Linked DNA regions of Homo sapiens: region 2 is linked to region 1. Evidence: fine-mapped expression QTL. A gene starts in region 1. The other region holds a variant in brackets. All regions are shown on one strand. Distances are from middle to middle.

The links. PIP is the estimated chance that this variant, and not a neighbour inherited with it, causes the effect.
Region 2: its variant is the best candidate, but not a certain one, in a credible set for the expression of DTD1 in subcutaneous fat (FUSION, PIP 0.59).

Annotation. Positions count from the first base shown.
Region 1 is chr20:18,584,937-18,590,315 of GRCh38, forward strand. DTD1 (D-aminoacyl-tRNA deacylase 1) reads left to right here and starts at 3,118. Exons shown (of 6, transcript NM_080820.6): 1 at 3,118-3,179. The coding sequence starts at 3,137. LOC124904878 (a long non-coding RNA gene) reads right to left here and starts at 2,529. Exons shown (of 3, transcript XR_007067547.1): 1 at 2,489-2,529. RefSeq lists enhancers at 289-583, 3,255-3,754, 3,595-3,654 and a silencer at 2,945-3,484.
Region 2 is chr20:18,688,058-18,693,436 of GRCh38, forward strand. All of the region lies in intron 4 of DTD1 (D-aminoacyl-tRNA deacylase 1), which reads left to right. DTD1-AS1 (DTD1 antisense RNA 1) reads right to left here. Exons shown (of 4, transcript NR_109955.1): 2 at 3,911-3,959. Among named protein-coding and RNA genes, the nearest start is that of DTD1-AS1, 8.0 kb to the right of the region's middle. The variant T/TA (reference allele first, on the strand shown) is at 2,079.

The DNA.
Region 1 (5,379 bases):
AGATTGCCCCTATTTCAGGTGCCAACCACACTTGGGTGTCCCCAAACCACTTGCACTTCAGACCAACTGGCTACACAGTCAGGAGTATCCATGACTCCCTAGGGTTGATAATGCACTAGAATCACTCATGGAACTGAGGAAAGTGCTGTAATTATCATTTATAGTTTTATTATAAATAATACAAATTAGGACCAGTCAAATGAGATATGTTAGGCAAGGTCTGCGAGAGTACCAAACACAGAGCCTCTGTGCTTTCTCCCTGCGGAATCAGGGCCATTACCCTCCCAGCACATCAATGTGTTCAGCAACCAGGAAGCTCAATGAAGCTTCAATGTCCAGAGTCTTTCCTGGGATTTCATCATGTAAGCATGACTGATTGAATCATTGGCCACAGGTTGAACTCAATCTCTGTCTTCTACCCCTCCCACAGGTTGGGCTGGCTCAGACATCCAGTCACTATTGGTCTTTCCAGTGACCAGCTCCCAATCTGAATTGTCTTGTTAGTAAACTCAGGAATAATCAAGGAGCTCATGAATAACAAAGATACTCCTGTCTCTTGAGAAATTCCAAGAATTTTTAAAGCTCCATGCCAGAAACCCAGAATTAACAAAGGCCAAAGTCTTTATTGTACCATAGGGGTGAACATTTTGAATTCCATTTTAAGTATGTTAACTTTTTTTTTTTTTTTTGAGACACAGGTTTACTTTGTCACCCAGGCTGGAGTGCAGTGGCAGTGATCCTGGCTCACTGCAACCTCCGCCTCTCGGTTTCAAGTGATTCCTGTGCCTCAGCCTCCCAAGTAGCTGGGATTATAGGTGCCCACCATCACGCCTGGCTAATTTTTGTATTTTTAGTAGAGATGGGGTTTCACCATGTTGGCCAGGCTGGTCTTGAACTCCTGACCTCAAGTGATCCACCTGCCTCAGCCTCCCAAAGTGCTGGAATTACAGGCGTGAACCACCACGACCAGCCCAATTTTCCCTTTTTTAGTCTTATTCTTTCAGGAGTGCACAATGGAGTTTTCCAGGGGCTCCGTGACATATAGTGACTTCATTGCTCTGATATTCATATGTAGGGGATTTATTATTGCTATTTTTAAATGCATTGATAAATCCATGTTAACTATTTCTCTTAGTTAAAAACAGTAAACATTTTTAGATATAATCCACCTAAACAAAAGCTATACTTTGTGCCCAATAATTTTTAAGAATGTAAAGGGATCCTGTGATCAAAATATTGAGACCTGCTGATTTTTCAAAAACTCAAATTTTACCAGTTGTTCCAATAATAAGCTTTTCCTTTTCTTGATTTTTCTGGCCAGGATACCACCCAGGTTAATTTAGTTTTCCTGTCTTTTTTTTTTTTTTTTTTTTTTTTGAGACAGAGTCTTGCTTTGTCACCCAGGCTGGAGTGCAGTGGCACGATATCGGCTCACCGTAACCTCCGCCTCCCGGGTTCAAGCAATTTTCTTGCCTCAGCCTCCCGAGTAGCTGGGATTACAGGCATGCGCTGCCATGCCTGGCTAATTTTTGTATTTTTAGTAGAGACGGGGTTTCACCATGTTGGCCAGGCAGGCCTCGAACTCCTGACCTCCAATGATCCGCCCACCTTGACCTCCCAAAGTGCTGGGATTACAGGTAGTTTTCCTGTCTTTTAAAAAGTCCACGGCTGGGCGCAGTGGCTCATGCCTGTAATCCCAGCACTTTGGGAGGCCAAAGCGGGCAGATCACCTGAGGTCGGGAGTTCGAGACCAGCCTGACCAACATGGAGAAATCTCATCTTTAATAAAAATACAAAATTAGCCGGGCGTGGCGGCGCATGCTTGTAATCCCAGCTACTCAGGAGGTTGAGGCAGAAGAATTGCTTGAACCCAGGAGGCAGAAGTTGTGGATAGCCAAGATCACACCATTGCACTTCAGCCTGGGCCACAAGAGCAAAACTGCATCTCAAAAAAAAAAAAAAAAAAAATCCTCCTTAATTCTCGGAATCCTACCTGGTTATTTTGTAGAATGTTCCTCAATTTATTTTTGTCCTATGTTTCATCATGATTGGATTCAGGTTATACATTATTTGGCAGAAATACCACAAGATTGATGTTGTGTCCTTCCCAGTGCAATATCAGGAGGCACATGATGTCTTGTTACTGGTTATGTTAACTTTGACAACGTTATTAAGGCAATTTAGTATTCAGTATTTAACAAACAAGCACACTAGTTTGTAGTCTTTTCTGGGCAAGTGAGGGTTTCTTCTCAATTTCAGTGCCTTTTCTACGCCCACCAATGCTATTAGTCACCTTTAAGGTGAAGACTGCTGAGATGGAATTATTTTTAGCAATGATAATAATTTGTTGGGGTAATAGTTGTACAGCCCTTTGCTGCCATCTAAGCACTTTTACGTGGTTTGGTTCATTTAAATCTAACAACCCAGTGAGGGGGCCAATTAGTAGCATTTATATTACATGAGAAATTAGAATTCTAGAATCACATACCTATTTATTATCATGACATGGCTAAGTCGAATTAATAGTGAGATAGGTAAATGGCTATTTTAGGCAGCAGATCCTTTTGTATGTGGTATCTGAAAAGCCACTGAGGCAGGAAGACAAGGAAGAAGAATTTGGGAGGATCTGCGTGCAGAGGAGTGGAAGAGGAAAGAGGAATACAATTAGAAATAGGATTCAGGCTGAATTTAAAGGCTTAGTGATGACGGGTTCTTAGGTTCGGGTATGTGGGAGAAAAAAACCAGCATAGAGACTACCTTCGGGGCAGAGTGGGTTCTGGGCACTGGGTAGGGGCTGGGCCCGGGATGGGGGGATCAAAGGGCTCTGGCGGGACCCAGATGTGGATGGGGCAGGGCCGAGCGTGGGGACTGGGCTTTTCAATGACGGGCGGGGTTACGGTTGGGCAGCAGGTGGGCGTGGCAGGCATAGGCGGAGTCAATCTATGAGTGGGTGGGCCTATCGCCAGGCCGAGAGTGGGCGTGGCCGACGTGGGGTGGGTAGCAGCCGACCGAGTCGGACCGGCCAGTTGGGCGCGCTTCCGGGTGTCACCTCCAGAGGGCGCCGGCTGCGGAGCCGCCCTCAGAGTCGCGAGGCCGGACGCAGCGCGGCGCCGCCCCACTCGCCCCAGCCGCCGCCATGAAGGCCGTGGTGCAGCGCGTCACCCGGGCCAGCGTCACAGGTCAGTCGGGCGGGGCCGGGCCCGGGAGGAGCCGCCCCTGACCCCCGCGACCGGCTGTCTTGCGTGGGGGGTCTTCCTGCGCCATCCTTGGGGCCGCTGCGGCCCCTCCGCGAGCCTGGTCCCCTTCGCGAGCTCGGTCCGCGCAGCCGCGAGTCCCCAGGGCCGGCTTCGGGGCAGCGCGGCGGCCGGAGAGCCCCCTGCACGTGCCCGACCGGCCCCGGCGCGCCCCTGGCTTCCGGCTCTCGGCAGAGGGTGCAGGACCAGCGCGCCTCATTCTCAGCACCTTTGTCCTGCGTGCGGGATGGCGGAGCCTCGGAGCATCTCCGTGGTCCGCTCTTCAGGGAGTGTTGATGAACCACGCTTAGAGCATTTCCGGAGCAGGCACTCCTCCCTTTTCACTGCTGTATTTTAAATGTTCAATTTTTGCCCATTTTTACGTATTCCAATTTTTATGGGGCTTGACTCAGGATGAAATGCACAGATGCGGAGAGTTGCTCCTTGGGCTGAGCTTTGACAGTTGCGTGCACGTACGTGACTGGAGCCTAGGCTGGATGAGGGGCGCCCCCTGCCCAGGACGCCCCTCGCCCTCGCCCGCTGAACTCTGCGCGGAGGGGTCGGGATCTAAAGAATTCAAGATGAAAACATTTCTCTTTTTCTTGTGGACCAAGCTACCCGACCCCTGGTCATCACTCAGCACTTTCGTCTCGGTTGGGCATCAGAGGTCCAGATGATTAGTGTAGATAAAGTAGTCGTTTTAAGAAAACCACGGTACGAAAGATATTTTTTAAAAAACATTTAAATGACAAGCTTTATATTGTCTTTAGTCTTTTCTGTCTTTATTGGCACAACTATATTGTTTCAGTTCAAATAATTTCAGATATCCTGTCCTTGGAGCCAGTCTGCACCAAATATGCGTTCTTGTGTCCACAAAAGTATGAATTAAAAACAAAACAGGCCGGGGGCTGTGGCTCACACCTGTAATCCCAGCTCTTTGGGAGGCCAAGGCGGGCAGATCACCTGAGGCCAGGAGTTCGAGACCAGCCTGGCCAACATAGAGAAACCCTATCTCTACTACAAATACAAAAATTAGCCGGGAGCGGTGGTTGGTGCCTATAATCCCAGCTACTCGGGAGGCTGAGGTAGGAGAATCGCTTGAACCCGGGAGGCAGAGGTTGCAGTGAGCCGAGATTGTGCCAGTAACCTCCAGCCTGGGCGACAGAGCGAGACTCTGTCTCAAAAAACAACAAACAAACAAAACCCCAAAACAAAAAACAAAACAAAACAAAAACAACAAAAAACCCTAAAGAAACAACCAAACCCACCAAAACCGTATATTTAAATCTAAGAGTCTATTTTTCAACCCCGCCTAATGATTTCTAAGCTGTTCTGGTAGCTTTGGTTTTGGAAATGGTCCTGGAATAATAGGGAATAGAGTAGCACTGGGATTTAGGAATTTTAAAGCTTTTATAACATTTCTGTAGATATTTAAATTCATGAAAACTGGGAAAATTCATAGATGAAAGATGTTTTGCATTATTGAGAAGAACCTTGCAGTCTGCTGCTGTGTGTGGTCGTCACTGACAGATTTAAATTTTGATCTCTCTCCTGAACTCTCCATCCTGCTAATCTGGAATATTGAAAATGTGTATTCTGTGAGATGTGCTGAATAAGAGTTTGGGTTATTTTGGTTCACTATTTAAGTTATATGCTTTCAGTTAAAACAACCAAACCTGCATATTAAAAAAGATAAGGGTGTTAATTATGGGAAAGTGTAAATAATTCGGGAATTCTGGGTTGGGGAACTGTGGAATTCTGTTAGAAGGGCCCTCCACTTATGCAGGCCTTCTAGTTGCATTGTAATGGAAAGGGATTTTCTGATTCCTTTAAAATGTGGCTGGTTTCACTGAAATGTGGCTGTGTTTGAATGGCATTTTATTTTAGGGGTTCTAAAATGTTAACTTCCTGTTTTATGGTCAGGACAGCATAGATTATCAGGAGTCACACATTTTATTTTATTTTAAAATAGTTGGTTGACTTCACATTTATTTTAAATTTATGCATTTATGGTTTGTTTGTTTTAGAGATGGGGTCTTGCTCTGTCACCCAGGCTGGAGTGCAGTGGCACTATTATAGCTTACTACAACCTCAAACGCTTGGGCTCAAGTGATCCTTTAGTTTCAGCATCCTGAGTAGTTAGACT
Region 2 (5,379 bases), 100 kb after region 1:
AACGGAATATCTCTTTATTTCTTTTAATTAATAAAACCCATGCATGGTCCATCTATATTTGAAGCTAAAGTTATGTCAGTATAAGAACATAGTTCCTTGGTTCTCAGAAGATGTTTATTCATTCACTAATCAATTTTTTCACCTATCAAATATTATCATTTACCTACTATGCCACGCACTAGGCATTTGGGATACCATGATGAACAAAACTGACACAGACCCTCTCCTCACTGAGTCTTCGGACTTGGGATCAGGCAGACATTTTTGAAATAATTCTACAAATAAGTATTAATTATAACCTGTGATAAGTGCCATGAAATGTAAGTACAAAGTGTCAGAGGAGTGTGAACCTAGATTCATGCAGGGTACAGGAACTCTTCCCTGAGGAAGAGAAGCTGAGCTAAGGAAAAGGGTGTAATGAGGTGAAGTGGGATGGGAAGAGCACTCCAGGGAGAAGGAGCAGCACATGCAACAGTCCTGAGACAGGGTGACCCTGCGGCTTTCCTACATAATGTCAGCGGACTACAGCGTAACACTTTGGGGGCATAAACTATTACCTTTTGGATATCTGGAAGGTCCCTTGCCGGGAACGACCCATCTTTCTATACTAGATTGCCAAGTGTTATTTTTGTTGTCTGCTCTCATTTTATCTTCTAGTGTTTGGTTTTTTAGCTATGAAGCATTCACAGAAATGATAAGAGCCAAGATCTCCTTCCAGGAATGTGGTGTTTAATTGGGTAACCCGTGTACCTGGGAGAAAATGCCCGCAGAATATTGAGTAGGAAGCAGGAAGTCCTTGCTCTGATCCTCATTCCCTGGGGTGGCCTGTGGGGGGTGGGGAGGTATGTGTTAGCAGGTGGAGCTAGCAGTGGCCAGGAAGGCATGACCCAATGAGAAATAAAAAATTCAGAACCCTCTGAAAGCATTGCAGAATATGATGGGAATTGAAATTAGAAACATTGTGTGCATTTCTAATACTCGTGCTAGGAAAAAGACTATAGCTGTGTTAAAGTTTAATGCGTGGACCGTAATAGAGAGCTGAACAGCTCTCCACGGCCCCGTTTTTCCATTCGTTTTCGGAATAAAGAAGCTGGTTCTATTTTAGGCTTGTATTTGGGAAGTGGACTTTACCAGAATGGGAGTCTGAGGCCAGAGTTGCCTTTTCCCTCCCATGTGAACAGATACAGTTGAGAGGTGAAGAATGGTGTGCTCTGCCCTCCACTGCCCGCCCCCTTTGTATGTGTGTTATGTGAAATTTTAAGGGGGTATATGGAGTTTGGTGATTTAAAATTCTTTATCAGTTTTCTCTCTAGATTTTCATAGAATCACCTATAGACTTTCTTTAGGGTACCTCTGTTAGGGACAGAAAAAGGGAATGAAATATACACCGGTTTCTTGTTGTTTTCATTTTTAGCATTCATTTGAGCAGGGATGCAACTGAGGCTTTAGTTTGCCCTTGGATTAGTTATCCTCTGTCTCAGTAGGCAGGTTTATTTGGACAGTGGCATATGGAGAGGGTCAATGGGGGCAGGAAGGATGTTGGTATTTTATCACTAACATTGTTTAAAATTACAGTGCATGTGGACAATAAAAACCATAATGACTTTATTATTTGTTTTAAAACTATCTAGACCAGCACTGTCCAATAGAATTTTTTGCAGTGTTGCAAATATTTTACATCTCACTGTCCAGTACATTGGACACTAGCCACTTGTGACTAATGAGCACTCTAAATGCAGTTAGACTGTGGAACTTAAATTTTAATTAAAAATTTTTTCATAAGTTTAAATTTAAGCCGGGTATGGTGGCCCATGCCTGTAGTCAGTCCTAACTACTTGGGAGGCTGGGGCAGGAGGATTACTTGAGGCCAAGAGTTAAAGACCAGCCTGGGGCAACTTAGCGAGACCTTGTCTCTACGAAAAACAAAAATAAGCCAGGCGTGGTGGTGTGTGTCTGTACTCCCAGCTACTTAGGAGGCTGAGGTGGGAGGATCACTTGAGCCCAGGAGTTCAAGACTGCAATGAGCTGTGATCACACCACTGCATTTCAGCCTGGGTGACAGAGCAAGACCCTGTCTC[T/TA]AAAAAAAAAAAAAAAAAATTAAAAAATAATTTTACCCATGTAAAAAATTGAATTATTTGTTTTTGTCTTGTTGATTTTTTAAAAATTTCTTGTAGATTTTGGATTTTAGACCTTTGTCAGATGCATAGTTTCCAAATATTTTCTCCCATTCTATAGGTTATCTGTTTACTCTATGGATAATTTCTTTCACTGTGCAGAAGCTCTTTAGTTTAATTAGGTTCCACTTGTTAATTTTTGTTTTTGCTGCAATTGCATTTGGGGACCTAGCCAAATTCTCTAGCAAAGCTTATGCCAAGAGGGTATTTCCTAGGTTTTTCTTTCAGTATTTTTATAGTTCGAGGTCTTACATTTAAATCTTAATCCATCTTGAGTTAATTTTTGCATATGGTGAAAGGTAGGGGTCCAGTTTCATTCTTCTACATATAGCGAGTCAGTTATCCCAGCATCCTTTATTAAATAGGGAGTGCTTTCCCCATTGCTTATTTTTGTCACCTTTGTTGAAGATCAGATGGTTGTAGGTGTGCAGCCTTATTTGTGGGTTCTGTATTCTGTTACATTAGTCTGTGTGTCTGCTTTTGTACCAGTATCATGCTGTTTTGGTTACTGTAGCCTTATACTATAGTTTAATGTCAGGTAATGTGATGCCTCTGGCTTTGTTCTTTTTGCTTAGGATTGCTTTGGCTACTTGGGCTCTTTTTTGGTTTCCTATAAATTTTAGGATAGTTTTTTCTGTTTTTATGAAAAATGACATTGGTATTTTGATAGAAATGGCATTGAATCTATAAATTGCTTTGGGCAGAATTTTAACATGGGCAAAGGACATGAACAGACACTGCTCAAAAGAAGTCATATGCATGGCCAACAAACGTGGAAAAATGCTTGTTGTCACTAATCATCAGATAAATGCAAATCAAAACCACAATGAGATACCATCTCACATCAGTCTAAATGGCAATTTTTAAAATTAAAAATGAGCAGAAGCTGGCAAAGCTGTAGAGAAAAGAAAATGCTTATACCTTATTTGTGGGAATGTAAATTAGTACAGCCACTGTGGAAAGCAGTTTGGAGATTTCTCAAAGAACTTAGAACTATTAATATCATTCAACCCAGCAATCCCATTACTAAGTATGTACATACCTAAGTGAAAATAGATTGTTCTACCAAAAAGACACATGTACTTATATGTTCATCACAGTGCTATTCATTCTAGCAAAGACATGAAATAATCTAAGTGCCCATCAGCAGTGGACACATAAAGAAAATATGGTACATATACCCCATGGAATGCTCTGTAGCCATAAAAAGAACAAAATCATGTCCTTTGCAGCAACATGGATGCAGCTGGAGGCCATTATCCTAAGTGAATTAATGCAGGAGTGGAAAACCAAATACTGCTTCTCACTAAGAAGTGGGAGCTAAACACTGAGTACACATGGAAGTAAAGATGGGAACAGCAGACACTGGAGACTACTAGAGCGGGAAAGGAGGGAAGGGGATGTGGGCTGAAAAACTACCTATTGGGTACTATGCTCATGACCTGGGTGATGAGATCATCTGTACCATAAACCTCAGCATCACACAATATACCCAGGTAACAAACCTACACATGTACCCTCTGAATCAAAAATAAAATTAAGAAAAGAAAAATTTAAATAGCCACACCTGGCTAGTGGCTACCATATTGGACAGTGCAGGGCTAGACAATGTCCCACCTTGTTGCCTGCATCTGGGGTGCATGCATTACTCCTACTCCCCAGCCTTAGCCCCTACTGCTTGGAGAATCTCACACCTGGTCAGCATAAAGCCAGTTTTCAGGCTGCCACTTACTTACCTTTTGGTGTCTGTGCCATGAAAAGAGGCAGAGACCAAAGAGGTTGTGCCTATGTAAAAGGAAAAAAAAATTAGCACCTTACTTACAACTTAGGGCACAATAAAGCATGTATCTAAGAACATACTTTTATTGTCTACTGATTACCAATGATGTGAGAGCCACACCCCAAACTGTGTTCTCCTCCATAGTTTATTCTTCACTTTAGTGTACACACTGGCCAATGCAAGGACTTAATGATCTCCATCTTTCATGTGTAATTAAATATTAACATGATACCTAAGACAAGGAGTTTGACGTTTGCTGATTTGATGCCTTGTTTGTAAGTGATGGAGGTAATGAAATGGTTTCTAACTTCTTAGAGAAAAGTCTCTGGAACGTAGCATCTCCATTCATATTTGCCACAAGCTCTCTGTATCTCTGCTTCCTTTGGCTATTTGCCAGGGGGAATGCCTTTTATCTGCAGGTTTGGGGCAGGCTAGGGGGAGAAGAGGTCATTTTACTCTGCCTTTATGACAAGGTTAACTGGTTTCATCAGGCTAGTACAAGCCACCATGAATGGATCCACTCACTGAGGGAAGAAGACAAATGCCTGCTAGCTATGGCACTGATTGAGTTGTTGCTGAGGTCAGTAGCTCAAAGGGATGCACTAAAGGCAGAGCCATCTGGGCTGGAGTCAGGAGGAGCCCCACTGACTGCCTGGAAGGAGAGCTGAGGCTCTGAACCTTGGCTCCTAGCACTTGGCACCATACGCCTATAAATTATGTTTACTTTTTATGAAATCATCCCTGAAAAATCTTTCTGCCAAACAGGATAGAGCTGCATGTGAATTAATCAGCACTCTTATTAAAATACATCAGTTATCTTTTATTTTGCTATATGCTACTTGTACATCATTTGGACATTTTCTAGAAACAGGACATGGATTTTTTTTTTTTTTTTTTTTTGAGACAGAGTCTTGCTCTGTCTCCCAGGCTGGAGTGCAGTGGCACAATCTCAGCTCACTCACTCCACCTCCTGGGTTCAAGCGATTCTCCTGCCTCAGCCTCCCGAGTAGCTGGGATTACAGGCGCGTGTCACCACGCCTGGCTAATTTTTTTGTCTTTTTAGTAGAGATGGGGTTTCACCATGTGGGCAAGGCTGGTCTCCAACTCCTGACCTCCAGTGATCCACCCGCCTCGGCTTCCCAAAATGCTGGGATTACAGGCGTAAGCCACTGCACCCGGCCAACAAAATTATCCTTTGCTTTTCTTTTTGACCTTGTATTTCTCTTTATTGTGGTGGTTGGTGGTGGATGGGAAGGGAGGGAACATTTGTTTATATGACTTTTATGTAAATGAAGAGAAGTTAGTCAGTGAATAACATTGTTTGTTGTTTTCTGCCAGCTTTTCTTGTAATAGAAAAATTGAGGGCCAGGTGCGGTGGCTCATGCCTGTAATCCCAGCACTTTGGGAGGCTGAGGCGGGTAGATC